4 linked regions of the Homo sapiens genome follow. The protein of the gene in region 2 interacts with the protein of the main gene of each other region in a biochemical or structural test. Each region holds a gene or a part of one and is shown on either strand. Other genes may lie near its edges.

Region 1 (7,501 bases), on a different chromosome or scaffold from region 2:
TCGAACGTCCATTTCCAAGCCAAAAGGAAAAAAAAAGGAAAAAATAATTATACCATACATGTCCAGCATGCAGGCTTTTTTTTTTTATTAATATAATGTCTCTTTTCCATAAAGTCTTTGAAACAGTTATAGTTCATTGTTGCTAAGACAAAGTAGCAAGCATAATAATGCATGAGATGAGAATGAGTTTTTTTAATGGCAGACTAAACTCTCAGATTTGGCATCACAAGGCCAAAACTCACAAGTCACACCCAGAAGGTTGATGCAGGCTTGATTGTGGAAGGTTCATGAGGATTTTTTTCTCTATTTTAGCATAACAATGCTAAAAAAAAAACCCGATGGAACTCGGCACGCTGCAAGTCTATAACATTTCACATTTTTTTTTCCTTTGCAAGCTCAATCTCACATGAAGAACTCAGGAGAAGAAAAAAAAACTTTGCTTTTTTTTTTCTTTCATCTCGGAAGAGATGGGTTGAGAAGGAGTGAGGGTGGAGGTTGGAAAAAAGGTGGGCAACACAGCAAGCTCTAAAAGTAAAATTAAAAAAAAAAATCCAAACAAAATAAAACACACACACACACAGAAAATGAACACCAGTTCATGAACTGAAGGGGAAGAAGAAGAAAAAATATGTGAATGATGCAGGCTTCAAAGGTGATCAACGTTTCACATGAAGAACTCTGCTGAGATCATTGAACATTGTGCAAGTCCGGGGGTGGGGCGGGGGGGTGTAAAAAAAAAAAAAAAACAAGCTAGCAAGTTATGGAGAATTTCAGATTGGCAATCCATGAGCCAGACACCCATTCCCTCCCCAGTTTAAAACAGCCACCACCACCACAAACTCGAGCAGGGTGTGGGGTGTGTGTGTGTGTGTGTGTGTGTGTGTGGTGTGTGCGTGCGGGTTTGTGTGTGTGTAGGGGGCCAAGGGGGCCAAACTCGGTGGGGGTGGGGGTGGTGAGGTGGTGGCGAGCATGGCTCTAGAACTAGCAAGCCCACACCCGAGCCGGACCCCCGCGGAGCACTTATCAGGGTGGCTAGCTGGAATCGCGTGTCAGACTCACATGAAAAACTCGGGAGAGGACGGGTTGTCGCTGCTCGAGCCGTTTTCTCGGAAGCCGCTGCTCACCAACTTCTCGTATTTCTCCTTGTACGCGTCCCTCTCGCGCACCAGCCTGGAGATCTCCTGCTTGAGGTGGTCGACTTGCTGCAGCAGCTGGTTCTTCTCCGACTCCAGGACGTGTCTCTGCTGCACCCTCTTGAAGCGGCAGGACTGGGCATAGCCGCGGTTTTTCAGGGTCCGCCTCTTCTGCTTCAGCCGGATCACCTCCTCCTTGCTGACCCCGCGCAGCTGCCGGTTCAGCTCGCGCACAGACATGGTCACCAGCTGCTCGTCGGAGAAGCGGTCGTCGAAGTGCAGGCCGCCGGCGGCGTGGTGCGGGTGCAGGGCGCCCCCCGCCCCCGCCGCGCCCCCGCCGCCTCCGCCGCCGCCGCCGCCGCCGCCGCCCCCAGCGCTGGCCGGGCCACCGCCGCCCGCGCCCCCAGCGCCACCGGCCGAGGCGGCCGCGCTGCCCGCGGCGCCGGGCGCGCCGGCCGTCGGGTGGTGGTGGTGGCCGGCGGCGTGGTGGTGGTGGTGGTGGTAGTGCGGGCCCGCGCCGCTCTGCGCGGCGGCCGCGGCGATCACGGCGGACACCACGGCGGCGGCGGGGCCCATCTCCTCGCCGCTGCCGCCCAAGGAGGCGCCGGCACCGGCCCCGGCCGCCGCGGCCAGCTGCTGCGCCCCGCGCGCGTAGCCATCGAAGCCGCCCTGGAGCTGGTGGCTGTTGCTGATGAGCGCCTCGACCGCGTCCTCGGGGCTGAAGCCCAGCGCCTCGGGGTTCAGCTGCTGCGGGTAGCCGGTCATCCAGTAGTAGTCTTCCAGGTGCGCCTTCTGCTCGCTGCCCGAGCCCGGGCTGGGCGCCGAGAAGCTGGGGGAAGGGGGCACCGAGCTGCACGGCGTGCTCATGGGGGTGGAGGACAGCGAGCCCCCGGCGATGAGACGGCCGCACTGGCTGATGATGCGGTCGGTCTCCACCGGTTCCTTTTTCACTTCAAACTTCATCAGATCGAAGTCATTAACATATTCCATGGCCAGGGGACTGGTGGGCAGGTCGGAGTTGCTCATTGCCAGTTCTGATGCCATTCTCCTGCCGCCGCCGCCGCCGCCGCCGCCGCTCCGCCAGATGGGCTGCAGGAGAGGGGCCAGCGGGCTGTGCTGGGTGGCCAGCGGGTGAGCCAGCTTGCCGGGCTGGGGCGCTTCTAGCTTGCGCGGCGGTGGCTGGCCCGAAACCTCCGAGCGCGCTCACACACACACCCCCCCGCCCTGCCCGCGCCCCCCGCGCCCGCCCTCCCTCCCCCCTGCTCACGCCAATGTGCTCCCTCGCTCGCCCCGGCCCCTCCTTGCTCGCTCGCCTCCTTGCGCGCCGAGCCGGCGGCTTCAGGCTCGGGAAGATCCTCCGCGAGCTGCGGTGGCGGCGGTGGTGGCTGCGGCGGCGAAGCTGGAGGAGCCCGGCCCGGTGCGCGGCGTCCCCCGCTCGCCGCTCCGCTGCGCGCTTTGCATAAGGAAGGGCTCGCCTCGCCGGCCCGGGCTGCAGGCAGGGCGCGCGCGGCGTCCGCTCGGGGCTGGAGGCGCGGCGGGCGTCTGTCCGGGCGGCGCGGGCCTTGGCACGGGGGAGTTAACACTTCATGCTTCTCGCCTCCTCTTCTGCTTGGCTCTCTTTATTATTTTTTTTCTTTCCTCTCTCTCCCTCGCGCGCTCTCTACCTCTGTGCAAAGTGCAAGGCAGAGGTGCAGCCCGACTGGAGGAGAGGGAGGGGGGAGTTTAGTTCTTTCTTGCCTTTTTTTAAAAAAGCAAAATAGCGAAGTCCTGGGGAAAGACGAGGCAGAGAGCAAAGGGGGGAGGGGGAGGCCAAGCCGACAAGCAGCCCGAGCTACAGCTAGAAGATGAAAAAAGATTTTAAAGCCTCTGATCCAGCAAGAAGAGTTTAAAGCAATTGCTGAGTTTTATAGCACTCGTGACGTCAGGTCCAAATGAGAAATTGACTGGCACTCCGGGCCAATGGGAGGCGGCGAGAGCGGCCGCGATTAGCATAATAGTATAGAAACAAGGAAACTTTTCGGAGCTGTCAATCAGGGCCCAATCAGCTGACTGTCAGCTGGGACGGGCTGGCTTAACCCTTCCTGCGCCGCTGCCTACCCGGGAGGGAACGAGGCCCGGCGCAAAGTTTGGTGTAAGAGGGGAAGGAGTTTTTCCAGAGGGGCTTCGGCAATCCGGGCGGACCTGGGAGGGCGGTTTGCTTTTCTTTGGAGCGCGAGACAGGCCTCCCATCCGGAGCCCCAGCTCGCTGGGGGCTCACTCGGCTGGGATTGGCCTGATTCCCCTCCCCTGCCTGCCCTCCACCCCCAGGATTGTGAATTCGCCTCCCAGCTTTTCCTCCTCGCACCAACTCTGGTACCCAGGTGTCTGCCGGGGACCTTCCTTCCCTGAGCCTGGCCGTGCCCGGCGCTCAAACTTGGCCCCAACTCTTTGTCCGTCTCTCGGGCGCCCGTGCGGGGAAGGGACCGGGAAGGGAGGGATGCAGTGGGGTGTCCGGATCGGGGCTGCGGGCTGGGCGCCGCCCGGCCATGCGCCTGCCCAGAAGGCTGGGCATCCGTGGAGAGGGAAAGCCCATTTTATCCCTCTCTTTACAACGAGGTAAAATAAGTTGTTTAGAGGCCATTCTTCACGGAGACCGGCTGCCCGCTGGCGTCGCGTGCCCTTGGACAGAGCGAGCGCCTATGCGAGATAACTCCGGGGAAGCTCAAAGTCAGGTCAGCCGGGCTCAGCCTTCCGGCTCCTGACTGGCCGGAGTTTGGCCTTTGAGACTCATATTGCGCGCTCGCTCTCTCTCTCTCTTACACACACACACACAAACACACACACACTCACACTCACCCGTCCCCTTACGAAATCTGACCTCTGTTTATCAGGGTCAGGCGCGCCCTTTGCACTTTTACGTTTCCTTTAATTATTTCGGACTTGATCGTGGCAGGGAGCAAGGGGGAAAAACAATACCCCAGCCCTCACCAGCTACCCTCGAAGGGTTAAATTTTAAACCGCGGTTTCTGGAACTAGTCCGGAAACGCAGAGTGGGGGGTGGGGTGGGGGAGGCTGCTCCCCCCACCCCCAGTTGCAAATGCTAATAAGTAGTTCAAATTTCTAGATTGATTCTCTAAAAGTTTATGCAAAAAAGAAATAAAAAAGAAAAAGAAAAAAGAAGGAAACCAACAACTAACTCTGTTTCTAAGATTTTAAAGCGATAGGCAAGTCGAAGAAGCAGAGATTTATTTGGAGAGAAAGCTCCTGAAACCGACCCAGCCTTTGGAAGACCAGCCCGTCTGCTTAGAAGTTGGGACTGTTGATTCCTTCAATTAATGAAATGCATTTGGTGTTTTTAATCGTATTTATTTTACTTTATGAGAAGGGGGAGACGCTAGGAGGGTGCATTAAAAAAAAAAAAAAATTCTGAAAAGCCTGCAAAAGGATCGAAGAGTGGAAACTATTGTTGGAGCGAGTTGGTTTTTACCTCAACAGCGCCACCTTTCGGCAAAGGTCAGTTGAAATTGATCCGTGTCCAGTTTTGTCGATGAAGTGAAAAGCAGCTGGTTACCCAGTGTGGGAGGAGGAAAGAGACACACAAAGTTAGTTTGACTGAAGTGGGAGAACCCGACCCTATAGGAAAGGGGCCGAAGAAAGTGCTGGCAGATGCAGAGATCATTTTTGCCCCTCCTCTTCTCCTTGATTGTTGACAAAGAGGCCAGGGGATACAGACACCCTCGGGGTGTAATTTCTGGCTGAGACCTTTGCAAGAGGATCCCCATGTAACAGGGCCCCAAACCCTTTAAAAGTGCCAGGATGGATTTTCAACGGGCTTTATGGCAATATCAATAGGATTAAAGTTACTTGTAATTCAGTGATAAATGAGATGTCTCTAGTAAGTAAGATTAAGTGCAGTGCTATAAAGTTGTTTATCTGGAAAGTAATTCTCAGAAAACCTGACTTCTGACACTTAGTCATATATTAAGCCAGCGTCTTGAACATTGCACTTCAGAATGGTCTTCCCCACCCCGCAGCATGCTTTGCTATTTATAACCTCAGGTGTCTCTCACTCGTTCCTTGCACCATATTAGACCTGTGTTAATTTCTCTGATCCTAGTAGACTTCAGTTTCAGCAAACCCAGGAATCCTTAATGGAAGACTTCCCAAAAGATTCGTAGGCACACCCTAATCTGAAAAGGGCAGCGCTGTCGGTATTTTTCAGACAAGTAGTGTTTCTTTTCATCGTGACTGCAGAGAAGTTGTTAATAAGGGTAGTTTTGGTCTTATAAGAGCATTTTGTTGGGTGGAATAAACTATGTCTATTACCAGTTTGGGGAAGAAAGAGTGAAGATTATGTCAATATTTATGCAACCTAGCAGAATTCCCTTGCTTTCCTTCTCTTTAACAATATTTTCCCTAGTAATGAAGTTAAGGGATTATAGTTTATTTAGAGGAAAATCCACACTTTCCATTACATAAGCATTATGTCATTTAACATTGCCCGTAACAATAGTTTTCTAGGTCTTTTTAAAAGTCAGTAGTCACAAATGTAGGAAGTTTATATTTTTCATGTAAAATATGAATTTAAGTGTATTTAGAAAGAATTTATTGTTTGTTTATGATATACTTTTAATCCTTTTGCATCATATTTGTGTTAAAAGCTGTAAGGTATGATCATTGCCTCTGAAAGCAGTATTATAATAAATAATAAATAATATTTTATACACAAAGTTTGCTAATGATGAAGACTGTGCCATACACATTCATGGCTGAGTATCTAATTGTTACATTGTTATATATCATTTCTAGAAATTAAATGCCCATGTTTGGGCAGCTAAATATATTATTATCTGCACATTTTTATGGTTTATTTATGTACACTGCTGTGAAGACATGGTATTTTTATTTCTCTTATTGCAAGGTCTTTTATAGTCGCCCATTTTCTCTTGGAAAAAAAAAAGAGAGGATCAGAATTATTTTTTTAGATGTGTAGCAGTAATGCTCTCAGGCTTATAACTTAATTCTCATTTTTATCCTTTTTACATTATTATTTAGTGATTCACAGGGGTGTCTAAACATTTACAGTTCTCTGTTAGCAGCATTTCTTTTATAACAATTGAGCTCTCTCATTTTAATGAGTACTATTCAGGTTTTTGATTCTGTACAATTACAGTGGGCCACATGTCTTTAGACTTCTTTGCTAACATTGTTTGTTTCACTTCTATCCAAGCCAATCTAATCCAAATACAATGTGAACTGTGTTTTCTTACTGCTTAACATCCCCTTGCTATATATACTCTAGTAATCTCTGTAGAACAATATACAGTAATTTAGAAACCATGCATTTGTCATTATTGACCAATTCGGACCAGTAGTATTAAAGTTTTTGAAAGCAATGAATATTTATAGGAGATTTGTGAGGGGGAGGAGGACATGGGTTACATCGCATAGAATATTGTGACACAGTAACATCAGAAACACAATTATAGTTTCACGTCAGTACATACATAATGACTTCATGCAAAAATGAAAAACAAAACCCCTGTTCATGTCCAAATTACAAAGATTAAAAGCTTAAAGGAATATATTTTCCCCGATTGTGAGTTATAGCAACTCAAATATATCATGTTGGAATCAGACATCCATAATCTGAATAGAATGGGATGCATCAGGTATGGTGTCTGGACTCTTTGTTTAGGGGCTGATTTTATGGGGCAGAACTAACCAGTGTCCACTAAATTTCACTATGAAACCAACTAAATTGATTTGAGAAAGAGTTCTTCAGAGTAACTGAACGATAAGGCGTACACTGTTCTTAGGTCCAGTGTTAGATAAATCCTTTTAACAGTCTTCAGTTAGCAGGGTAAGTAAATCACAAATCACTGTTAGCAGATTCATGGAAGAAAATTAATAGAATCAGACGAGATAATCTGATAAGGGCAAAATTGCTGAGGAAACAGTCTTGCCTCATGTTGGAGGATGTGAAACAACAGTCTGATTACTAGGAGTCGTTATGAATAGGTGAATTATGTGCTAAATAATCATCAGAGTAATTCAGCATTTATTAATTCTTTTCTCTTTAAGCAATTCACAGTTGTAAGTTAAAGCCGCTCTCTCTTTCAAGGCACATCTTTTATAATTTTTATTAGAGGTAATTTATTATTTGCATTACCTGTATTTACTTCATAATTGAACATTTTACATTCAAATTTATGTAATGCATTATGCTTGAGAATATATTTCTGCCTGATTAGCATAAATAGTCACTTACCTCATGAATTACTAACAAAGTTTATCTTAAAATATAGGTTTTTTTATTAAGTGGAACACAAACATATGTACAATAAATTCTGATTCTCCAGTGCAGTTAGAGAACAACTCACATTTGG
Region 2 (7,326 bases):
AGCTTTAAAATTTGAGAATTTAGGCTAAGTGTGGAAGTCCCAGCTTGCAACAAGCTGAGAGTCCCCTTAATGTGTGAGACACACTCAGATCTGCCATGGTCCTTCCCTTTTGGATATTCCAAACATATTTGGTTTGTAGGCTTTTACACACCATTTCCTGACTGCCTCGGAAGCCATTTTCTCATTTAACGAACAGTCAACACTCGCGGTGAAACAATAACCAGAAAAGAAAAACGAATTTGGTGGCCTGAAAAACATTAAGGTGGAATCCAAAACATTTTGAAAAATTGACTTCAGCTCCTTGACAGCTTGGCTCAGACCTGGATATTTATTTTCACTCAAAACATTTGTATATATTGTGTCTGATATATACAAGCTACTGTTTTTGACAAAATCAAAACAAAACATGCATGATAACTATTAGATAGCCTAGAAAATGAAATTAGTTTAAATATCAACTGAAGTCAGTTGGGCTAAGGCTCAGGGCTCTCTGTGAGGGGCCCACTCCAGATTTAGGGCCAGGTCCTGCACTGAAAAGAAATCACTGGACTTTGGGAAGGAATCCTGAATCCTTGAGTTGTTGTGCATCATGCTAGGAATTGCGAAGGAGGAGTGCTACATGTCAGAAGGAGAGGGGAGAAGAGGCAGGGATAGTGGAATGAGCTCGCAGGGGGAGGCTTGGTTCACTGAGATTAAGGCGGGACACTCCAGTACACCCAGAACAACTCCACCTGGCATTTGGGAACCCCTGCCTCCATGAGGCAAGCCTGGCAGGGCCCAGGGCCTTAAAGTCTCCACTGGGACAGGCCAGACATGCCTCAGAAGGGGCACAGTAGCTGGGCCTCTGGTAGAGTTGGCAGATGGTAGAGACGGTGAGAGGAACTTCTGGTCCTCTTTGCTTTGTCAAGAGCAGCTAGCGGGGCAGAGAATCTAAGAGACTTCCTTCCCCTCCCCTTGACTCTTGAGAAGGATTTTTGCCTATCCTTATGGGGTTCCATTAAGGTAATTGAAGAAAGAAAGATGCACCAACACCTTTACTCACCTCAACTGGAAAGCCATATTTACAGTTGGAGTGCAGCACCCCTCCTCCTCTTATTCACTCCCTTCTCCTCCCCTGGATATTTTTCCCTCTCCCTGTGCAACAGAGCTTCAAAGCAGACCAACAGCTCCTTTCACCAGAGCTAGCCTCTGGGGATCCAGTTACAGGGTTCATAGGCCTGGCCTAGGCATGTTTGAGAAGGTGGGAGTAGGGCAATGTTTGCCAGTCTTGTCTGGAGATGGCACTTGTCTGGAGTCCCAGTCTCTCTCATCCCATCTCAGGAAATGAAGGTTCCACATATTCTACCCAGCTGGAAATAGGCCAGCCTATTTCGCATTTCTCATTTCGAGATATCTCCAAGTTTACCCCACTACCCAGCCCCTCCCCTTCCCTCCCTTTTCCTCCCAAAGTCTGAAGATCTAGTGTGGCTTTTGTTCTCTCAAATCAGCCAGGGCAGACAGGAGGGTGGAGGGTGGATGGTGCCCTTTCCTTTCTCCAGAGTGAAGATCCTGGCCTTGCCACAAAGGGCTTCTGCTGCAGAGACCTAATTGTACCCACAGTCCTTTCCATTCCCTCAGGAGGCCTTCCACTCTGAGCCCTAACTAGGCGACTGCTATACGCTGAAGGGGCTGGAGAGAGGGGGAAAGGGAGAACGAATTGGGTGGAAACAGAAAAATCCAGGTACCGGGGAGCAAGAATGAGCGGTGGGTGCAAATGCCCCAGCCAGGAGCAAGGAGAGTTGGCCTCAGTCCCCCAACGTGGAAGCCTTAAGGCCAGCCAGAGTTGCACTGGTACTTCCGCACGTTTCTCACGGGCTTCTCAGGGACTGAGGAAAGCAAGGAGGCCCAACTGGCCTGGTCTGTAAATCTCTTGGTGGCTTCTGGGGCCAGCAGAGAAGGAACCGAAGGAAAAGCCTTAGCCTTAGCCCCAGATCCCCCTCCCCAAACAAGGCCTCTGTCCAAAAGGGCAGATCCAACCCGGCCCTGGCCACGCGCGCGGCTAGTAGAGCGCCAGCGCCTGCTCCCGAAGCACCACGCGCTTCTTCTTCATACGCCTGTTCTGGAACCAGATTTTGACTTGCTGGTCGCTGAGGTTCAGCCTATTGGACAATTCCTTGCGTTTCTGCCTGTTGATGAATTCGTTGACGAGGAATTCGTTCTCCAACTCCGCAATCTGCTGCTTCGTGTAGGGTTTCCGCTTCTTGCGGGCCCTCCCCGGGGCCGCCCCCCACGGCAGGCCTGCAACACAGCCCCAACCCACGTCAACCCAGCCCGTACTCTGTCTATTGCCCGCCCCCAGGCGGTTCACCTCCCCTTACACTCTCCCTTGAACCCCACCTCCCATCCCGGCCCAAACCGGCCCGGGGAGCATGGGCACCGTTTACCGTCGGGCAGTGAAGGTCGCAGGCAAGAGGCAACGCCCGCCGCCTGCACTGTCATGTTCAAGTTGAGCGGGCCCTTGGTGTCGTCCTTGAAGCCAGGGGCGCAGGGAGCCCCCTGGAGCAGGGTCGTGGAGCCCGGCGTGGCACGACCCACACCAGCGTAGTCATACTTGGCCGCTTTGAGAGCAGCCACTGCAGGAGCCAGGCTAGACTCGGGGGCGAAGGACGGCCGGGTACGACCGCGCTCCTCTGGCCCAGCGGCCGCTTCGGGCGCATAGAACTTAGCCTGCTCTTCGGGTCCGTCTTTGGCTGTTGGGGGCTGCAGGCCGAGAGGCCCGGAGCCAGCCAGGTAGGGCTGCGAGAAGCCGCCGAAGGCAGTGGCGCCCGCAGGCTGCGCGGGGGCGCAGGAGGCGGGCGTGGCGGCCCAGGGCAGCGCGCCGCGCGGGTAGGAGATAGGGGGAAGCGCGGCCAACTGGCCGCCATTCGGCCTCAGGTTGGAGAAGTAGAAAGAGTCTGGCGACTGCAGATTCAGAAGCGAGCCCACATAGCCCGCTCTGTAGAGACTGCGCTCACACATCTCCAACAAAGGGCTTCGGCTGCGCTCGCAACAGTATTTAGTTACAACCGGGAATAAGAGGACAGGCTCAGACGATTGGACGAAACTTTGCCTGCAGGTTCTTCAAAGCCGGTCATTTCAGCACCGCCTACATCCCCCCGACCCGTTTTCCCCCCCTTCAGAGTATTATGATAACACCCGCAATGTTCGATGGCGAAGGACGAGGCTGCCAGCAGAGCCAAATCAGGTTGAGCGAAGACTAACTGTCTGCGGGTTTCCAGGCCCGGCTTCAGCAGCTGGGGACATCGGGCAAGAGGGTGACTCTGCCCAAGTGTCCCCTGGGACTCTTCTTGGTCGTGATTGGCTTTGCGATTCGTTTTCCGCAGGCTTTCTGGGCCCGGCTTGCTTCTACCGGCTTTAAGTTGCAGCGGAGGCATTTTCCATTAACCGGCGCCTCTCGACTTATCCGGAGAGGGCGCGGTCCGGCGGCACCAGGAGCTCTGTCCCTTGGCCTGAGCAATGTCACTTTTACCCCAATCACTCCCACAGAGAGGGTTTCTCCAGAGACCTCTGCCTGAGGATCTGGCAGCAAAGACCCATTCGCTACTTGAGCCCTCAGTCCCAGGCCGCAGACACAAAAAGGGCATCACAAACTACCCAATTTTGGGATCCAGGAAGGAGGCCACACTATTTCTGGTTTGTGTCCCCATGGCTAAGAACTCTGATCATAGGGAAATTGCCATACAGGTCCATGGAGAATGTCCGCCAGGGAACCCATCAGCTCGATCCACCAATCGTGGCCAAAGGCTACATTCCTTTTATCTTCAGGAGTCCTCTCCAGGACTACACACTGCAAACCAGAACTCCGAGGTGTCCCCATCCACCAAGTGGAGGGCAAAGCAGGACGAACTCCCCCGACTGGGTGTGGAAAGGCAGAAGAGCCAGAACCACCTGGCCGGGGAACAGCGGGCGTTCGGAGGCAGCTGGCTAGCAGAGTTCCTTGCCTCAGCGCCCCCAGGGGTGCCGGGGATAGGGAGTTCACGGGTCTGACAAACAGGGAAGTGGGAAAGGCAGCAGTTCTTAGCCGGGAGCGGTGTGCTCAGACCCCGTCGCTGGCCCTCTTGCCTAGTCCGGCCAGAGGACTAGGGGTCCTCCCCTCCTGCCTCTGATCCCAAGACCCTGGGAGACCCGGTGACCGGCGCCAGTCTCAGCCTGCAGCAGGACCCTCGGTCTCCGAGCCAAGCTGGAATTGGTTAGATCGCGGGCTCCTGCACTGAGACCACACAGGCGCCGCCGGAGGGCAAGACTGACCGCCGCGCTGCCACTTTATTGTGTGAGTTATGGCGACCAATTGGGTGGCTCTGGGGAACGCAATCGGCCTCTTCCTCCTGCTCTGGTGGGGGGGAGAGAGGGAGTGAGGACGGGGGGGTGGGGATGTCTGGGGCTCCTCTGGCTCTGCCAGAGAGTTTCCTTAGGAGCCCAGGCATAGAGACTCACTCGCTCTCGTCCTCTCTTGGGAGGTGGGGGCAAGCACAAACTGCAATCCCAGTTCCTAGATACTCAAGGGAATACAAGCCTCAGATCCCTAAGAGCTCTTATTTTGGGGAACCCATCCTATTTTCGAGGAGCTGCAGCTTCGTTACTCCCGAAAGCTCCAGCTCCAGGGGTCCCTGCAGTCTCTCCTCACGTTTCAGTGCACGACGATTCCTCGTTATTTCCAAGCCGAGGGGTGTCTCTTTCGGACCTTTAGGCAGCCCTACAACAGCTGTTTGCGCCTCAGGACTAAAGGCATAAAAGAACTCAGTGAAAAACAGGAAAAACAAGAACAACTAGGTTCCCTCCATTGCTCCTTGGACAGTCTTCCCACTTCATCCCCCGGGTTTATGACTTTCGAGGTCTGGCAGGCAAAGTCTTATGCGAGCTGGGGAACCTGATCGAGGGAGGATCGGGGTGGAAAGTAGTGGCGGGAGAGTGGCTTGGCTGGTGATTAAGAGAATGGAACAGGATTTGGCTGAGGAGCGAATAGAGAGCTCTGCCAATGCCGCCCAATGCCCAGGAGATGGCGAGCGCGCTCCATGCCTATCGGGGCGCAGCCGCACGGTCAAGATCAACAGTGAAGGGCGGTGCGGCCTCCCTGGGGTCGCCAGCCCGCTTTCAGACGCAGCCTAGCGCCTCCGAAAGCCGGAGATCTTGGCGGCAAGGCCGCCCCTGACAGCGGAGCCAGAGGGACCCAGGGGGCTGCCAGAGGCGGGGAAGCACTGCAGTCGCCCCTTTGTCTGACCGTGAGTCCCGGCTCCAATGCTTCCTTCGCCTCTTGAATCACGCGACACGGGGACCTCGTTCCCCCACCCGCGGCGCTAAAAACCTGCCGGGTTTCTGAGGAGCTCTCCTGCCGCCTGTCTCCAACCGAAGGAAAGGCCTCTCTCCAAGCCCCCTTAGCCTTCCGGGTTCCCCGAGGGCCTCCCTCCCAGTGCCTGGGCCACTTACCAGTTCCTCTCCTCCCTCTGCAATTTGGAATATAAAGGGAATGCATATGAATAACAAAGCCTTCTTCTGTTATTGATTTAGCCCTCAATCCAAATTCCTCCAGAGAGCGTTTGAGCACAGTTTTAATCTTCAGCAAACCTACCATTTCTCCAAGGCGGGGGGAGGGGGGGAAGTGACATGCAAACTAGAGATGAAAGGAAAGCCTCGAGGCAATCTCCCCTACCCACGATGGGAAACCCGAGAAATAGACAGGGGAAATGGAGTGAAGCTCCGGAGTGTGGGACTCACAAAAAATGGAGGGGAAGTTGGCGATTAGGAGAAAGGAAAAATGTGCCCGTTTCTGATGAAAACACATCTTTTGAGAAAAACCACAAAAACGGTAACGACCCTTCCCGAAGTGTAAGGTGGGGGATGGTGTGGCCCCTTGTGCACGGGTTATTTCTTCTGCAAAGATTGAATCGCGATCATATCTCTCTCTGTTTCTCTGTCTCTGTCCCTCCCCCTCAAAATCGAAGTTAGCTGTCCACGGTCGCCAGTAAGATATGAAAGAAATCAAGCTGGGACAGGGAAAACGAAAGTAGCTCCAAGTCTTAGGTCTCTGCGTTTTCTCTCTCAAAGTCATGAGGGAGCCCTCCCACCAGGAGAGTTTTCACACTAAGTGAGGTTTTAAATATCACTATGTAACTAACTTACACACTAAAACTTTAGCAACCACTGAGTTGATTGTGTGGGGAGCTAACCATGAGGAGTCATCCAGTTCCTCATCGGCCATTTCCCTGAGTGGCAAAAAGGCCTCAAACAGAAAATTCTAGTGCCTAAAAATTGCGTCTGAAAGTTTAGGTTTTATGTTTTCAGTTGTCAACTGCTCTGTGCAGACTGCCCGGAGAAGGCGATATGGGATAAGCTTGAAATGTTTCTTTTTCGATTGCCAAATATGGGTATGTCTTTCTAATTTCAAGACCTTCCTAGTCCAGATGTTTATAATGGTCTTTCCAGGTTGAAAATTTTCAAGTGAGTAAGTTTTTCTATGCACAGGCATACAAATACATATGGATTAAAAAATAAATAGAACTATATAAATAAATTGACAATAGTGAAAGAAAAGTAAAATTTTATTGTCTTTTGAGCTGGCCTGGTATAAAATATCATTTTAAACACTGTAAATGATATCCTCATTTTAAAACATCACTACTTATGTTAAAGTCATGGGCAAAAGGGAGGGAGGGGGGCAAAAGTGGAGAGCATGAAGGTTCCAGAAACCAGAATTAGTGTTGAGTTTCCTTCATCTATAGAGAACATAATTGTGTTCAAGATACCAAGATTTTGTAATAAATAAGAATCGTTTCAAGAAGAAACACAAACTTGAAAAAATAAAACAAATGTATAAGGACTCAGAAGAAACAAAAGAGTTCTGTTTATTGGCATCTCCCTAGGAGTAAAAAGTGATTTTTAAATGTCTGAAGCACTGCCCATGTATCCCAGCTCACAGACATTGCATTTACAAAAATAATCTCTCAATTGTATAAATATGCAGCACTTTAAAAGTAATTATTTATCATCACTTTCAGAAACATCATTATTTTTCTTCTTGGACCTTGGAACTTCACATTTTTCATATTTGTTAGATGCTTTACAGCTCCATGCGAGGCCCCCTTGTTTAGACAGTCAAGTTCTTCATTGGGTTCTGTATGTAAGTTCCCACCCACGGCCACATTGATTCAGCCTCTTTTTGAGGATTGAGGAGATGACCACAATCCCAGACCCATAGATCCAAGGCCAAGAAAAGGAGGTGCATTTATGCCATCCGCGGGTCACTCTACTGATTGCAGCCATTTAAATGTCTGCATTGAGAGCTCAAGAAAT
Region 3 (7,019 bases), on a different chromosome or scaffold from region 2:
CTTCCGGCAGCCCCCACAGAGGACGCGGAACTTCCCGAGGGCCTTTCCATTATATGTCCCGACTCCCACGGGTGCAAGATACCAATTCCCACACACAGACACATCCTGCGGGGAGCAGGTGGCGGGCGTGAGTGTGTCTGTGGACCGGCGTGCAGCTCTGGGCCCACGGGAGCCCACTCTTCACCCTGCAATACAGTCTCTTCCTGGTGTGAGCTGCCTGCGCCCGAGGGGCCTGCGCTTGGACTCGGATGTCGAGAGTCTGCATCCCAGTGACAGGTACGAGGGGTGTGCCCCCACCCGCCTGCCCGCCGCCCGCCGCCCGCCACCCCCCGCCCCCGGCCGGCACTAGGATGCAGCCGAGAAGGGCACGGAGGTGGAGGAGAGCTCGGTGGACTTGACGATGGTGATGACGCTGGTGGTGGCCACCTTGGAGGGCGCCACAGGTCCCCGGGCCACGGTGCGCGCGAAGGTCTGCAGCGCCTCGTACTTGGAGCGCAGGGCGTCCAGCTCCAGCCGCATGCTGCTGTTCTCACGCGCCAGCTTCTCCACCTCCTGCTGCAGCTCCACGCGCTGCCGCTCCAGCTCCTCCTTCTGCGTCACCCGCTTGATGCGGCAGCTGGCCGCGTAGCCGCGGTTCTTGAGTGTGCGCCGACGCTGCTTCAGGCGGGTCACCTCCTCCTTGGTGAGACCCCGCAGGTGCTGGTTCAGCTCCCGCACCGACATGGACACCAGCTCATCATCGCTGAGCACCGGGGCGTTCTCGCCCGCCTCCTTCTTGACCTGGGGGGCCACAGTGCGGGGTCAGCGGCGGGAGAACGTGGGGTGTCTGCCTGGGACCGACACTGGGGTGGCCAGGAACCCAGCGGTGCCCCTGCACGCCTGCGCTCTCAGGGCTGGCCTTCGCCATCCGCACCAGGGACCACAGGACACTGTGCACGCAGGCAGCCCATGTGACAGCTGTGGCCCCACAGGACCCTTTCTGAACGGGAAAAGCCAGTGGTGACATCGGTCACTCCTGGTTACCGACAGCCTCAGAGCCCATGAGGACCCAGAGTGCATGGGTCCTGCTGCTGGGACTGAGCCGGCCCACAGGCACACGCCATTGTGGAGGCGGCAAGCGCCAGGCACAGGTGGGCTCGGGCCTTGGGAGCTGGAGCATCGCGTTCACCAGAGGCCACGCTGGCCACGCTGCCCACGCCTGGAGCCAGGGGATGAGCTCATGCAGTAGCGCCCGGCGGACACACAGCCCAGGCGGGAAGGCAGCAGACCCTGCCACGCCCTCAGCCTGGGAGTCATCGCCTGGAACCACAGTCCCCGATCCTGACTCCACCTCTCCTGTGAACATCCCTCGGCCACAGCAGCCCCCCTCCTCCTGGCAACAGGGAGGCCTCCATCACAGGCTCAGGACGGCCCTGGGATAGCAGGGGCTGTCGGGCCGGGGGCCTTTCCCACGCCTGTGCTTGAGACGGGGCCTGCTTGGAACCAGCCTTACCTTTAATGCCTTATTCGGTTTGGGATTAGTCGTCATAACCCGGGCACGGTCACCAGGACAGAGCTCCCTGGAACTCGTAGCTGGAAAACATGGACAAGCAGAGAAGCCAGCACAGGTCAGGGCCGGCAGCGCCGGACAGGGTGCCCACCTCCCATGCAGGGATGCTTCTCAGCCCGGGGTGGACAGTCACAGCACCATGAAAACAAGACGGGGCACCATCCGGGCCCAGCCCGTCCTGAGGGGCTTCCCAGGGGGTGAGGCATCCTGGCCCGGCCTCTGTCCCTGCCTGAGGGTTCAGGGAAAGGTCTGGCTGCACCTCACACTCTAGCACACTCCACAGAGCGGCTGGGACCCCACCCCAGGGCCTGGCAGCCAGGTGCGGCCCCCTGCTGCCCTGCAGACCTGGGCTGCAGCCGCCGGCACTGTGGGGTGACCAGCAGGCGCCGGCAGTGGCTGCTTCCTGTTCTGACTCTCCCTGAGGTCAGAGAAGACGTCTGCACCTGCACAGCACAAGGTGCCCCGTACCGAGGACCAAAGTGACTGGTGGCAAAACCTCCCTCCCTCAAGACAGCTGTGCCGGCCCCGAGGAGTGTGGGGCCCCGCTGGACAGCGACCCTACACTGGCAAAGGCTCCGGTGCTCCGGACCCAGCCTGGATCCCCGAGAGGGGGCCTCTGGGGAGCCCCTGACATCGCCATCCCCCACGGTGGGCCTGGGTGGAGGCCCAGCCGCCCTCCCGCCCCGCCCTCCCCACAGGCCACGGGACACCTACCACGGCCCTGGCCGCTGCGGCTGTGACATCACCACCTCCACCTAAGCTGCCCCCGAGCGAGGACCCTGCGGCCCAAGGGGGTGTGGGGTTCCTGAGGGGCGGCAGGTCCGGGGGCCGCAGCCAGAGACCAGGGAGGTGGGGGAGCCGCCGCCCTGCCGAGCATTTGACCGTCTGGCGGGAGTCGTCCCCGCCGCCGCCCCCGCCGTCCTCACGTCTGCATTGTGTCACACATTCTAATCATTCATGAAAAACCCAGCCAAAGCATCCCCGGCATGAGCCCTCCGATAGTTGCCATGGCGACCTTGGGACCGAGCCAGCCCCCACGGTTGTCATGGAAACCGAGAAGCCCAAACGCGATCCTGACTTCAGGTCAGGTTGCACAGACATCACGAGGCCGGCAGGCAGTCAACAAACCCATTTGCACCCGGCGGCCGGGACGGGCGGGCAGAAGGCGCCGGGCAGCTCGCGGGACAGGGGTTCACAGCACCCACTCCCATACCCCAAATACCAGACACAGGTTCCCACAGGAACATCAGAGCAGCACACGGCGGTGGGGGGTGTCCTTGGTCAGCACCTCCACTGGACATGGGCATCATGGGGGCGGGTGACCGCATCCCGTCCTCCCTGCCAGCCCAGGACCCTCCCCACACCCTGGGCCAGGGAGCCCTCGGGCCCAAATCCCTCCACCCTCCAGCCCTGCCTCCGATGGGGGCCCCACCCCCGCAACCCACAAACCCCCACAACAAGAGGGCCGCACAGGTGAGACAGGGTCCTGCGCCAGGCTGCCGAGTCCGCTGCCCCTGCCAAGGCCAGCTGATCTCAGGGCGCTGACGTAGATGGCACAGGATGGCACCAGCCGGTCCCGGGGACGGCCAGGTGGGCTCCAGGCTCCTTCGCACCACGTCCTGGGGTGAGGGTGACAGTGGAGAGGCTGGGGCCCAGCTGCCTCCGCCACCGTGGGGACCTGCAAATGCCGGCGGCTGGGAGCACCATGAGAAACTTTTCCATGTCAGAGGGAGGGGCCGCGGGCACCGCTTCCAGCTCCACTGCGAGCACGTCAGTGCACAGGCCGGCCACGACATAGCTATGCGGTGAGTCACCAGATGTTTACAGAGCCGCGCGCATTCCCACACACCCGGGCCTCCCACCCAGCAAGGACCCGCTCCTGGGCCCCCGGGCCCACTGCCCGCCGTGGCAGCACAGCCGGGCGGAAAAGGAAGGTCCGGGGGACAGGACCGTCTGGCCAGACCCACGGTGACGTGTGGGGCTCGGCCAGATGCCAGGGGCAGAGTTCAGCGTGGGGATCTTTCCACTAAAAAGATGCCTCCGCGATGCCCTGTGACACTGCGGAGGCACACGGTAGCCGGGGGCGCCCCAGGAGGGGTGGCTGACTACTTCCAGGAGGTCAAGGTTGCCAGGGCTACTGAAGCACGCCTGTGCCCCGCTCCAACCCCAGTACTTCGAGGCACACCTGCACTGGGGCCCTCTGAAGAATGAGGACCTGGCGGACGCAGGGCTCCCAGGCGGCCCCCACGCTGTGCTCGCAAGCCTGCCCCCCACCTCCTTGGGCAGGTCACGACTCTGCTCTGCCGAGGAAGCCTGGACCAGCCACGCGCCTGGAGAGACGACGCAGCGGGACGGCCCAGCCAAGCAGCAAAGCTTCTCTCAGGAACCCAGCACGGGATGGGATGGTGCTGGCGCCTCCCTCTCCCCACCATGCACAGAATAAATCCAAGTAGCCTTAACCTAATGTCGCTTTAAACATCAGAGGCAAGAAAGATGACAGCTTGCTTTTGGAAGGACATTCAGAGAAGAGTTTTGTATGCACAAAAAAAGTTTGTAAAGCAACTGATCTAAAAATGACGACTGCCCTAAATGGGGTTTTGTGAACTGTCCGACCTCACATGGCCTCCAGGGCCGCCAGAGCACATGTAGAAAGCGCTCCCACCCCAGGGCCAGAGACGCAGCCTTAGGGTGTCATCCAGGGGGAAAGCGTGCCTGGGGTCGCAGAGACGCCCGTGCACTACCCCGGGCCCAAGGCAGGGGCTACTGCATTAGCACCTGGTCAGCACTGCAGCCAAGCTCCCCTCCAGCAGCCCCCGAGGAACGACGTCCTCGCATTGTGTCTTACGCCCAGCAGCTAACAAAACACCAGCATCGCCACGCACAAGCACCCGACACCCCGAGCTCCTCTGAGTTTCGGTGGTCACCAGAGAAGTGCAGTGTTCAGCGCCACAGCGGGGGCCTGGGTGGGCGGGTCTGAGTTTCCGCTGTGGGGCCCCAGCAGCCGACGTAAGTAAGGGTGCAGCGCTCACGCCCCACGTCCCGGGAGCAGCGCCGGGCAGCAAAGTTCTCCGGCACCACCTATAACTTGGAACAGCTCTCAGGTAACTGGTTTTCGGATGGAAGAGGCAGGGTTTTCAACCCAAGGCCAGACACCTCGACGTGACGCAGAACTAAACAAGGCTCAGCGGGGGCATCACTTCCTCTCAAGGAAAAGGAACTGCCAGCAGCCTCAGACAGAGGCAATTCCTGCGGCTGCAGCTGGGGATGAGTGACGGAGCCAGGACGCCGGGCGCCCCTTTCCAGGATCCAGACTGAGGGCCTGGGCTCCATAAAGCGCAGGGCAGGGCGGCTCCGCCCAGGAAGGCACCTTGCAGAGGGTGAGGATCAGAGCCCTGGGCTCCCCCCGGCAGGGCAGGCAGCCCAGGGTCAGTCGTCCAGAACTGTGCTTTCAGGAGCAGGTGATCCCCAGGCAGCCACCTCAGCTTCTGGAGGATCATGTTTTCCCTTTTAATTTTCATTTTAGAGACAAGGTGTCACTCTGTCACCCAGGCTGGAGTGCAGTGGTGAAATCACAGCTCACTGCAGACCTCCTGAGCTCAAGCGATCCTCCTGCCTCAGCCTCCCGAGCAGCTGGGACTACGGGTGGGCACCCCCACACCCAGAGAATTTTAAACTTTTTTGTAGAGACAGGGTCTCACCATGTTGCCTAGGCTGGTCTCGAGCTCCTGGACTCAAGTGATCTTCCTGCCTCAGTCTCCCAAAGTGCTGGGATTACAGGTATGAGCCACCATGCCCGGCCATTTTTAACTTTTTAAGTCCCAGCAAATACTCACTGGTCACCCATGGGCCTGACCCTGCTCAGTGGGGGGCTGGCAGCCTTGGCACCTCTTGCTGTGCTGGCACAAGCTGAGAAGGACCTGCTTTGGGGTCCAGGAGGGAACATTTTCTCCACCAAGTTGGGACTGGGCACAGTGGCTCTTGCCTGTAATAGCAACGCCTCCGGAGGCCGAATGCTCGAGCCCAGTAGTTTCAGGCCAGCCTGGGCAACATAACAAGGCCCCATCTCTACAAAAAAAAAAAAAAAAAGAATTTTAAATAGCCAGTTGTGATGGCACATATGTGCCTATGGTCCCGGCTACTCGGGAGGCTGAGGTGGGAGGATTGCTTGAGCCTCGAAGTCGAGATTGCAGTGAGCTGTGATCACACCACTGCACTCCAGCAGCCTGAGTGACAGGGCAAGACCTTATCTTTTAGGAAAAAAAAAAAGAGAGAGTGCAAAAGTGAGTTGAGCAGCTGACGGCTGGATGACCCCTCTGAACGGTCCCGGCTGTGGATGCCCATAGAGAAACGGGGATTTCAGCTTTGGGGCTCTGATTCTTCCCAGATGAGAGGACGCATCGGGGCTGCCGCTCGCTCTACGAGGCCAGCATGGGGGCTCTGGATGGGTCACTTGTTCTTGCCCAAGGGGTGAATGATGACACAGACTCCATGCCCCACCCCCTCAGCTGCCCAGCCAGTCTGACCAAGACGGAGTGGCCCTTCCACTTCTATTCTCCGCGGGTCTCCGAGGATGTGGGATGCGGGAGAGGGAGGAGGGGCAGGAGGAAGACCAGGAACGGAGGACGGGAGCTCTGTGCGAGAGACACGGGTTCAGAAACCCAGCAGCACAGCAGCAAGCGCCCTCCCGCCCCCCGACCAGTGACTCCCACGGCAGGTGCAATCCACAAAACCAGAGGCCACCCAAGGTGTACCCGCCTCTCCCAGGAGCCTTTCTGCCAGAGACCCCAAGCCGGGTGCCCTCCACACTGGGCCGCAAGGGTAGGTGGGGCCGCTGTGGCACTGGTACCCAGTGGGTGCCTGTCAAACAGGTGTCAACCGACTAATTGCAGCCCAGCTGGTCCCAGAGACCAGCCAGACACCCTTCCTACTGAGGATGAGGTCCTACACTGCGAGGGCCCCCACTGTCCGGCTGTCCCGGACACAGCCCCACTAAGCATGCGGGAGGCACCCCACTTGGCACCCCGCAGCCCGGCCCATACCAGCCAGCAGCCTGGCCCTGGCTGGCTGCCCTCCAGCAAGCCATGACTGTCGGCCCGGCTTGGAGGACGTCTGGTCACCTTGCATTTGCAGTCTGAGGAAGCTGTGTCATTCCGCTACATCCAGAGGTGACTCAGGCAGCTGCAGCAGCAGAGAGCAGACTGCAGAACACACCACACCCCCTCCAGTCCCCGCCCTGGCTCCCACCACACCATCCTCCTGTCCTCGGCCTCCAGCTCCCCATCAGCATCCTGTTCTCCCCCGGCCGCCCTGGGGCTTCAATCCGCTCCCAGCCTCTAAGTCCAGTCAGGGGCATTCCGGGGGGCCCAGATGCCCCCCAGCCCCCAACCGCATCATTCACCGGAGTTGCCCCTGCCCCTCTCTCTTTTCCTCATCCACGCGCCAACCAGGCTTGATCCCAGCCCTCAAGCAT
Region 4 (7,998 bases), on a different chromosome or scaffold from region 2:
ACACTTTTATTTTGGTATTTTTGTCAGTGCAACTTAAATCCTTTTACTGACCTGCAGAAAAAAAAAAGTAATAATAAAGAAAAACACCCATATCTTCCCTATAACTACTATACAACTGAAGAATTGAAGGGGGGGGACACCACCAAGAACTCTTCCTACTATCTCAAAAGCAGGGAAAGAAACGCAATGCATTGGTCTAAAGAACGCACTTGAAAGTTGCAAAATTACTTGCCAATGTTTGGGTTTCTGGTACATTCTGAGCATAGCAGTTGGTTCAGTGCAGTGTCTGCTTACCAGTGCACTGCCAGGGTCAGGGATGGCTAAGCCTCTCACCCTAGGAGCGCTGTGGCTCCTACAATTAGCGCAGGCCCAGAGGGTTCAGAAGGGACCTCAGGGTGATTCTGGTTACAATAAAAAGCAGAGGGGAGGATCTGTTTTCCTTTCCTTTCCTTTCTTATTAAGGGTATCAATTTGACCATAAGACAAGGCTGTAGTCCAGAACACTCCTCTGGGGTGCGGAGCTTGGCAGCTTCCCTGCCCTGCCCTGCCCTTGTACTGGGACCTCTCGGTTCTCTCTCTCAGCACCAACAAGGTTGAAAACTAAAGCGAGAGAGGAAAAAGAGGACCGAATGGGGATAAGGGAAGGAAAGAAAACATGCAACTTCCAAGTGTGCCCCAAGACAAAGTTGTTTTCTGATGCAAAATGCCCGGAACTTTTTCTTTTTTTTTTTCTTTTTAACTTACAAACAAAAATACCGTAATAATAAACCCAAACAAAGACCCTCAGCTTGCTGCCACGTTCTCTATGCGGTTTGGCGGGGCGGGTATTTACAAGCCTACAGCTGGGACTGAAACCCCGCACGCAGCCGCCGGAGTTTCCAAACTGCGATCCCTTCTCACCCAAAGAAACAAGGGGAGTATGATCCATGATCAACAACATGCTAAAGTTAAACAAGAAAATGGTACAAAATAGAAATTATTACCATACATGTCCAGCATGCAGGATTAATATTTTTAATGCAGATTTTTTGTATTTTTCTATATAATCGAGCAGGCAATAAAACTGATGAGATTTGGGCGCCGAGCGTCCTAACTGAGGCCTGTGTCTCAGGGCTGAGAGCCAGTGTTCTCCGAACTCTGACAGACAGGTCCGTCTGTCCTTCCTTCTTTCGCTCAGCCTCGCCTCTCGCCTGCCGGGACGCCAGAGTCCCTCTCCTTTCCTCGTTGCTCTCTTCCTGGCGCGGACTACTCTCCGGGCAGCAAAGCAGCTGTCCCGGCTTAACGCGCAAAGTTCAGAAAGCCAGGAGTCTCCAGATGGCCTTGGTGACTTCTCGGGACTATGCCTCGCCGCCCTTCAGCCTGGAGAGAAGTTACTCCGGGACCTCCCACCCTCTCGTCTCTCTCTCCGGCTCTGCTCGAGTCTAGGAGGCGGCGCTGGCGTGCGCTACTCTCGCCTTAGCCAAGGTCCCCTGCCCGCCCGCGCACCCGCCCGTCGCCCGCGGCCCGCGCGCCCTTCCTCCCTCTCGCTCAAGTCAAACAGGTCAAGGCTGGGGCCGCGGCAGGGACAGGGTCCGGGGTAGTCTGGGACTAGGGACGTGGGACAGGGAGTCCGGGCCGGGGCAAGGGCGGGGGCCAGGACCGGCCACGACTCACAGAAAGAACTCGGGAGAGGAGGGGCTGTCGCTGGTGGAGCCCGCCTCCCTGAAGCCGGAGTTGGCGAGTTTCTCGCACTTGACCTTGTAGGCGTCTCTCTCGCGGGCCAGCCGGGACACCTCCTGCTTAAGCTGCTCCACCTGCTGAATGAGCTGCGTCTTCTCATTCTCCAGGTGGTGCTTCTGCTGGACGCGTTTATACCTGCAAGACTGGGCGTAGCCCCGGTTCTTCAGGGTCCGCCGCTTCTGCTTCAGGCGGATCACCTCGTCCTTGGTGAAGCCCCGCAGGTGGCGGTTCAGCTCGCGCACGGACATGGACACGAGCTGGTCGTCGGAGAAGCGGTCCTCCACGCTGCCGTTGCCGCCCGCCGCCGTCGCCGAGGCCGTCGCGTGCGGCCCGGGCCCGGGGTGGCTAGTGGGCAGCTGTTGCGCCGGGCTAGCGGCGCTGGACGGCGGCGGCGACGCTTGGTGATGATGGTGATGGTGCGGGTGAGCGTGCGGGCCCAGCTCGTCGTGGGCCACGCCGGCGCCCGGGTACGCGTGGTGCGGGTGAGGGTGGTGGTGATGGTGGTGGTGGTGAGCGCCGCGAAAGCTGTCGAAGCTTTGCAGCGGCTGTGGCACTGGGTGCGAGCCGATGAGCGCTTCCACCGCGTCCTCGGGCGTCAGGTTGAGCGCCTCGGGGTTCATCTGCTGGTAGTTGCTCGCCATCCAGTACAGATCCTCGAGGTGTGTCTTCTGTTCGGTCGGGCTGAAGCTGGGCGACGAGGGCACGGAGCTACACGGAGTGCTGAGCGGTGTGGAGGACACCGAGCCGGCTGGCTGCAGGCGTGTGCAGGGCCTGCCCGGACGCTCCGCGCGCCCCAGTGGCTCCTTCTTCACGTCGAACTTGAGCAGGTCGAAGTCGTTGACATACTCCATGGCCAGCGGGCTGGTGGGCAGCTCTGGCCCCATGCTCAGCTCCGCGGCCATCGCTGAAGCGAGGCGCAGCCGCCGCTGCCGCCCGGGAAACTTTGCGGCCGGCCGGAGCGCGCCGAGCCAAGCGCGGGGGGGAAGAGCGGAGAAGAGCTGGGGAGGCGGGGAGCGAGGGCGCAGCGGGCCGGGGCCGCCGGCCAAGCCTTTGTCTGGGGACGCGGCGGCGCGCCGGAGAGTCCCGAGGCTGCCTGCACCGCCCCAGAGCTCTGGGCTGTGCCCGCGCAGGGACCGGGCCGGGTAGAGTCGGGCGGGGTGGAGAGGCAAGCGGAGCGCGCGGTGGGGCTGAGGGGAGGCGTGGGGCGAGTGCCCGTTGCTCGCTCTCTAGCTCTCTTGCTCTTACGCTCTCTCGCTCGCAGCCGCTCGCAGCTCGGCGGTGCAGCTGTGCTGGATCCGGCGGCGCCGCAGCCTTTTATCGCCTCCTGATGTCACTGGGGTGCGGGGGCCCGGGCGGCCCGGTGCGCGGGCCAATAGCTGCACGGCCTCCGCGGCCCAGCGGCGCAGGGCGGGGCGCGCCTGACAGCTCCCCCGCCCCCCGCGTCAGCTGACTGGCGGCCCGAGCGGCCCCGGAGCGGCGGAGGCCTGGCGGAGCGCTGGAGCGGAGTGGGACGGCCAGCCTGGGCCCACCCCCGTACCCTGCAGGTCCCGGCCCACGCACGCTCGCCTGGAGTGCGCGCCCCACCTCTAGGCCAAATCACCGCTTTCCCCTCCTCGCGCACTCTCCTCCCTCAGTTCCCTTTGCACCCCACCCCCATCCCGTGTCACCCCCAAGGAGGCTCAGAATGAGCGCCGGGACAACGCCTCCTGGGCCCTTTGTTCCCAAGCGGCCCCCGCCCAGTGGGCGACGCTCTGTGTGTCCTCGCGGCTTCTGGCCGTGTGTGTCGTGCGTTCCTGTTTCTGGAGATCTGCGCGTATTTGTATGTTGGGGAGGGCGGGCTCGAGGCTCCGAGAGTTGTGTTCAGACCCAACTCTTAACCTCAGGGGACCTTTCTCAGGCCAAGCGAGGGCCCCTCCTGGCGGGTGCAGTCGCAGAGCCCTGAGGTTCGACTCCACTGGCCCCGCCGCTCCCCGCGTTCACCCCACCGCACAATGTTCACAGTGAAGGCGACGGGAAAAGCAGCAGCCCAAAGGCTCTGAATTCCTCTTCCCCGCCACACGCACGGAATCCTGAGCCCCCGGAGCCTCGGGGCCGAGGCCGGCCCGGGACGGTGCTCCGAGTAGCTCTCCACTGCTGGGGAGCCGGCCCTGTTTTTGTTTGAACGTTTTGTAACGATTAAGCAGATCCCGGCGTCAGCCCGCCGCGGAGAGGCTCAAACAGGCATAAAGTGCGACCCCAAGTGGCCACTGTGCGCAAAGGCGCCGCGACCGCCCGGCCCACGGCCGGAAGGCTTGGACGGCGCCTCGTACCCAGCCAGGTCTCCCCTACCTGGCCCAACCCAAGCCAGCCCAGAACGCATACTATGTGTGCACCAGAGCCCAGGACAGGTTCCCCTCGAGCGATGTACAGGTCCTCGGGTCCCGTCTTCGTACTCAGCCGCGAGCCTCGAGCCGCGAGCTCCGCTCTGGTCGCCCCGTTGAAATTCCGTGCCCCAGCGTTCGGGGGTGCCCGTCGGCTGCTCCCTGGGCCGGAAGGTCCTGGGCGGAGGAAGGCCGGTAGCCAAAAGTGGAAGCGCCACAGTGAAGCGGCCCAGGGCCACCGGGTGAGAAACCTCCCCGGAGGGCAGACGGGGAGACCGAAGCACACCGCACTAGGCATCCAGACTGGGCTTGGGAGCCGCGCACCCTCCCTACCCAGATCCAGGATGGCTAGAATTAACGGGTTCTTTCTGAGACCTCGGCTCAGGCGCCGAAACCGGATAGATCGCGAATTCGCTGGACCCGGAGACCCGACCCGCCTCCCGCGTCACCTTCTTCTTTCTAGCTTTGGGCGCGCGCAGCGAAAGGCAGGAGAGGCGCGCACTGGGTGAGTGAGTCCCGGCCGCTGTCTGCGCTGGACCAGCCCGACTGACCTCGCGCGTAGGGGTCGCGTGAGCCACACCGGTGCAGACGCGCCTAGATTATTTTTAAATGTTAGAAGGTAAAATATTTGCCTCCAATTAATCTGAAAACTCTCTATTCTCTTGCGCCCTCGGAGAGGCTGGGGTACGGCGTGGTATTGGGCCGCCTATTTTTAATAAAATGAGTGTATTTTAACTAAAACTTAACTCAATCTTGTGGGGTGGCAAATTAAATGCTGGAAGAGCGCGTCTACAACCCTCTTCGAGAAGCGTGCTCTCCGCAGAAATGAGTCGGCCGCCTGGAGAGAGAGCCTGGGCGGTGCCGCTGCGCAGCCCCTGCCAGTAGCTGGGGGTTGGGGACTCGCACCTTGTAAATGTCCTCGTCTTGTTTGAACGCAGTGAGAGCACACTCGTTTCCAGATCACTCGGGACCGGGTGTCTCGGATCTGTGCAGACTATGTATGGCTCCGGCCTCAGGCGGCCAGGGCGGGACAAGCACGCCTGACTCTCTTGGTCCCGACTGGACTAGAGCTGGTAGCACCCTCCCTCAGGGTCCTAAGAGACCTGTGGCTCCCAGAGTGTTTCTGCCACTGTGGACTTCTGCGCGGGCACCAAGATGGACAGGCCAAGCTGTGACCCACTCCACCCCCGCCCATACGTCCCCTCGGCTCTGCCTGACACTGGCCGTCGAAGACTTCCGTGGCCCATTAAGGCCCTGGGGATTCCTGAGGCCCCAGGTCTGCGGTTCCGAACCTCCTCTTCTCCTGCGGGCGGCCTGCCTCCGACTCAGGGTCTCTTGGACTCGGGCTTTGGGCAACCGCGCTCTTCTTTGTCCCTGTGCCTCTGTCTCTGTTGTGGTCACTCCCTTCGCCTGGGCTTTGACTGTGGTATCTCTGTCCATCCCCAGGCTCACTTCCCCACCCAAATCCGTTTCTCTGCCCCTCTCCCAGCTTAGCCACTCCCTCCTCTGCACACCCCACAACCTACCCCACCAAAAAAAAATGTTGGAAACAGCCCTACCCCTGCCAGGCTGTGGGTGAATGACGGAGACATGCAGGTGGCCGAGGAGTTAAGGCCGCTGCTGCGCAGCCGGCCCCACTTCGTGGCCTGGCCTCCCCCACCCCGGTTACTGCTGCGCTGACTTGGAGCCCCAGGCCCTATAGCCTCCAACTTCCGACTGCTGTCGCGGGATGCCGCTTCTCATCTCTGGGGTCTCTGGATCAGCATGCCAGGCTCGGCTCCCCGTCATGGATACACAGCAGTGCCCGCAGTCTTCACCCTATCCCTAAAACGTAGGCAGGGTTGAGGTGAGGAGGGTGAGGGATTGCTGCTGTATACCTATTGACTGGGAGTCCGACACGCTCAAAGAAAAAAAGTAAAAGAAGGAACGGTGGAAGAAGTGAAGGGTCGAGGAGAAGTAAAGGGAGGCCAGGAGACACGCGAGCAGTGCACGGAGTCCCAAGGCACACTGAAGGAAATGCACGGAGTCCCAAGGCACACTGAAGGAAAGTCGGGGATTTTGCGGCAGCCACAGCCCCTCTAGTGAACAGCTTGTTGCCAAAACTCCCATTTAAGGTGTTTACCCAAGAGTGACCTCCTCTCTACCCACGCCAGGTTGGGCCAGAGGCTATGCCTCTGGGACGCACCGCCTCGGGATTCTTTAGCTACAAATGGTGATGGAGGAAGCTCTGCAGGGTCCGAGCCGCTGCAGAGCCTTGGAGCATTCGGGGTAGGAGTAAGAGAAGAGGTTATTCCCTAAGGGAGCGTGGAGCCCACAGCCAGCCGCCAGGTGTGAGGTTTGCCGCGCTGCCCTCGTTGGCCCCCACTCAGCCGAGGGAATAACTCCAGAGAGGCCCGGCGGCGTGTCCTCCCGTACGCCTGGAAACCAGAGCGGCATTCCTGGCATCCTCATTCAGCCCGAAGGTGCGCCGTTCACCTTCGGCGTTATTTCCCTGAGGGTTGCAGGTGGTTGGTGAGCGAGGAGGCGTCTCTGTGCACGCATGGGTGCTGTTGGAGGCGTGCGGGAGGGGTGTGTTCGTGCGTGTGCTGTTTGCGCGCGCGTGTGTGTTGGTGGAGAGGCGCAGCAGCACGCGGGATGCGGGAGCGGGAAACTTCCAGCTTCAAAGCTCGGTGGGCTCCGGATCGTACTATGCGGAGTCGCTAAGCAGAGGCCAGTGGTCTCAAGGGCCTCAGAGGCAAGTTCTGCCAGGGAGGGTCCTGAATCAGGGGACCCCCACCTCCCGCCTGCCGCAGGAGCTTGACTTCTGCCTTTGCATCACCCAGATGTAGTGTCACCTGTCTTTTCCAAGGAGCCCTCAGGTCTCTGCCACCTTTTGTGAGGCTCAGTGGAAAAGTATTATGTTGCTCCCATTCCGTGGGATCCTCCCAAGGTCTATGGAACCCAAAAAGAGACAGGAGGGTTTTCTGGGGGATTTTTGTTTCTGTTTTTTGCCCTTACTCTTCCTTTTCCTCTTCCCAAAGGCAGCTATCACTTCCACTTTCCCTTGCCCCATACAACCGCTGTCAGATTCCAACCCAGTGCTTCTAAAAAGGTATTCTTGGGTTTCTGGGTCCTGGTGGTCTTTAGGCAACCAAAAGATTCAGAGGGTCCCAGTAGGGAGCCAGAGTTACACTGACTGTGAAGATCCTGGCTGTCTCTCCTGGGGACCAGGGACAACACCCCAATACATGCAGAAATGTGCACGCGAGCACACACACACACTTAGGGGTAGGAAATTATTATTAAAACTATTTCACTGTTTTTTTTTACTGTGTTCTAATGTGACCAATAAATAATTTTAAATTACACATGTGCCTCACATTCTATTTCTGATGGACAAGCCTGCATTAGATAACCACTGGGCAGTATTGCTTCCAACACAGATGGGATATTTGATAATAGTCACTCTCATTTGTACAGGGAGTTGCAAAGCCTTTTGTCATTCACCTTTTTGTTTTGTTGTTTTTGTTGTTGTTGTTGGTTTGTTTTATTTTATTTTTTGAGATGGAGTCTCACTCTGTTGCCCAGGCTGGAGCCTGGAGTGCAGTGGCGTAATCTCGGCTCACTGCAACCTCCACCTCCTGGGTTCAATCGATTCTCCTGCCTCAGCCTCCCAAGTAGCTGAGATTAAAGGCACACACCACCACATTCAGCTAATTTTTGTATTTTTAGTAGAGACGGGGTTTCACCATGTTGGCCAGGCTGGTCTCCAACTCCTGACCTCAGATGGTCCGCCCACCTCAGCCTCCATCATTCACCTTTTCACTCAACTCTTACAACTCTGTGAAGTAGTAACTATTATTATCCCTATTTTACAGAGATAGGTAAGCAGGGAGATAAGTGGGTGGATGCAGATATATCACAGTGTCTTAAGAGCATT

The links.
Region 1: the proteins of HOXD12 (region 2) and MAF form a complex in vitro, tested with the Homo sapiens proteins (one study listed by BioGRID).
Region 3: the proteins of HOXD12 (region 2) and MAFK form a complex in vitro, tested with the Homo sapiens proteins (one study listed by BioGRID).
Region 4: the proteins of HOXD12 (region 2) and MAFB form a complex in vitro, tested with the Homo sapiens proteins (one study listed by BioGRID).

The regions. Positions count from the first base shown.
Region 1 is NC_000016.10:79,597,726-79,605,226, forward strand, and holds the start of MAF (transcription factor Maf), read right to left. Parts: upstream 3,013-7,501; 5' UTR 2,178-3,012; coding exon 1,060-2,177; coding exon of another isoform or gene 1,056-1,059; exon of another isoform or gene 1-1,055.
Region 2 is NC_000002.12:176,095,473-176,102,798, reverse strand, and holds HOXD12 (homeobox protein Hox-D12), read right to left. Parts: upstream 3,005-7,326; 5' UTR 2,998-3,004; coding exon 2,424-2,997; intron 2,278-2,423; coding exon 2,039-2,277; 3' UTR 310-2,038; downstream 1-309. UniProt on the Homo sapiens protein: Sequence-specific transcription factor which is part of a developmental regulatory system that provides cells with specific positional identities on the anterior-posterior axis.
Region 3 is NC_000007.14:1,533,702-1,540,720, reverse strand, and holds part of MAFK (transcription factor MafK), read right to left. Parts: exon of another isoform or gene 5,841-7,019; intron 3,275-5,840; exon of another isoform or gene 2,264-3,274; intron 1,573-2,263; 5' UTR 1,529-1,572; coding exon 1,493-1,528; intron 781-1,492; coding exon 346-780; 3' UTR 1-345. UniProt on the Homo sapiens protein: Since they lack a putative transactivation domain, the small Mafs behave as transcriptional repressors when they dimerize among themselves.
Region 4 is NC_000020.11:40,686,230-40,694,227, forward strand, and holds the start of MAFB (transcription factor MafB), read right to left. Parts: upstream 3,008-7,998; 5' UTR 2,622-3,007; coding exon 1,650-2,621; 3' UTR 1-1,649.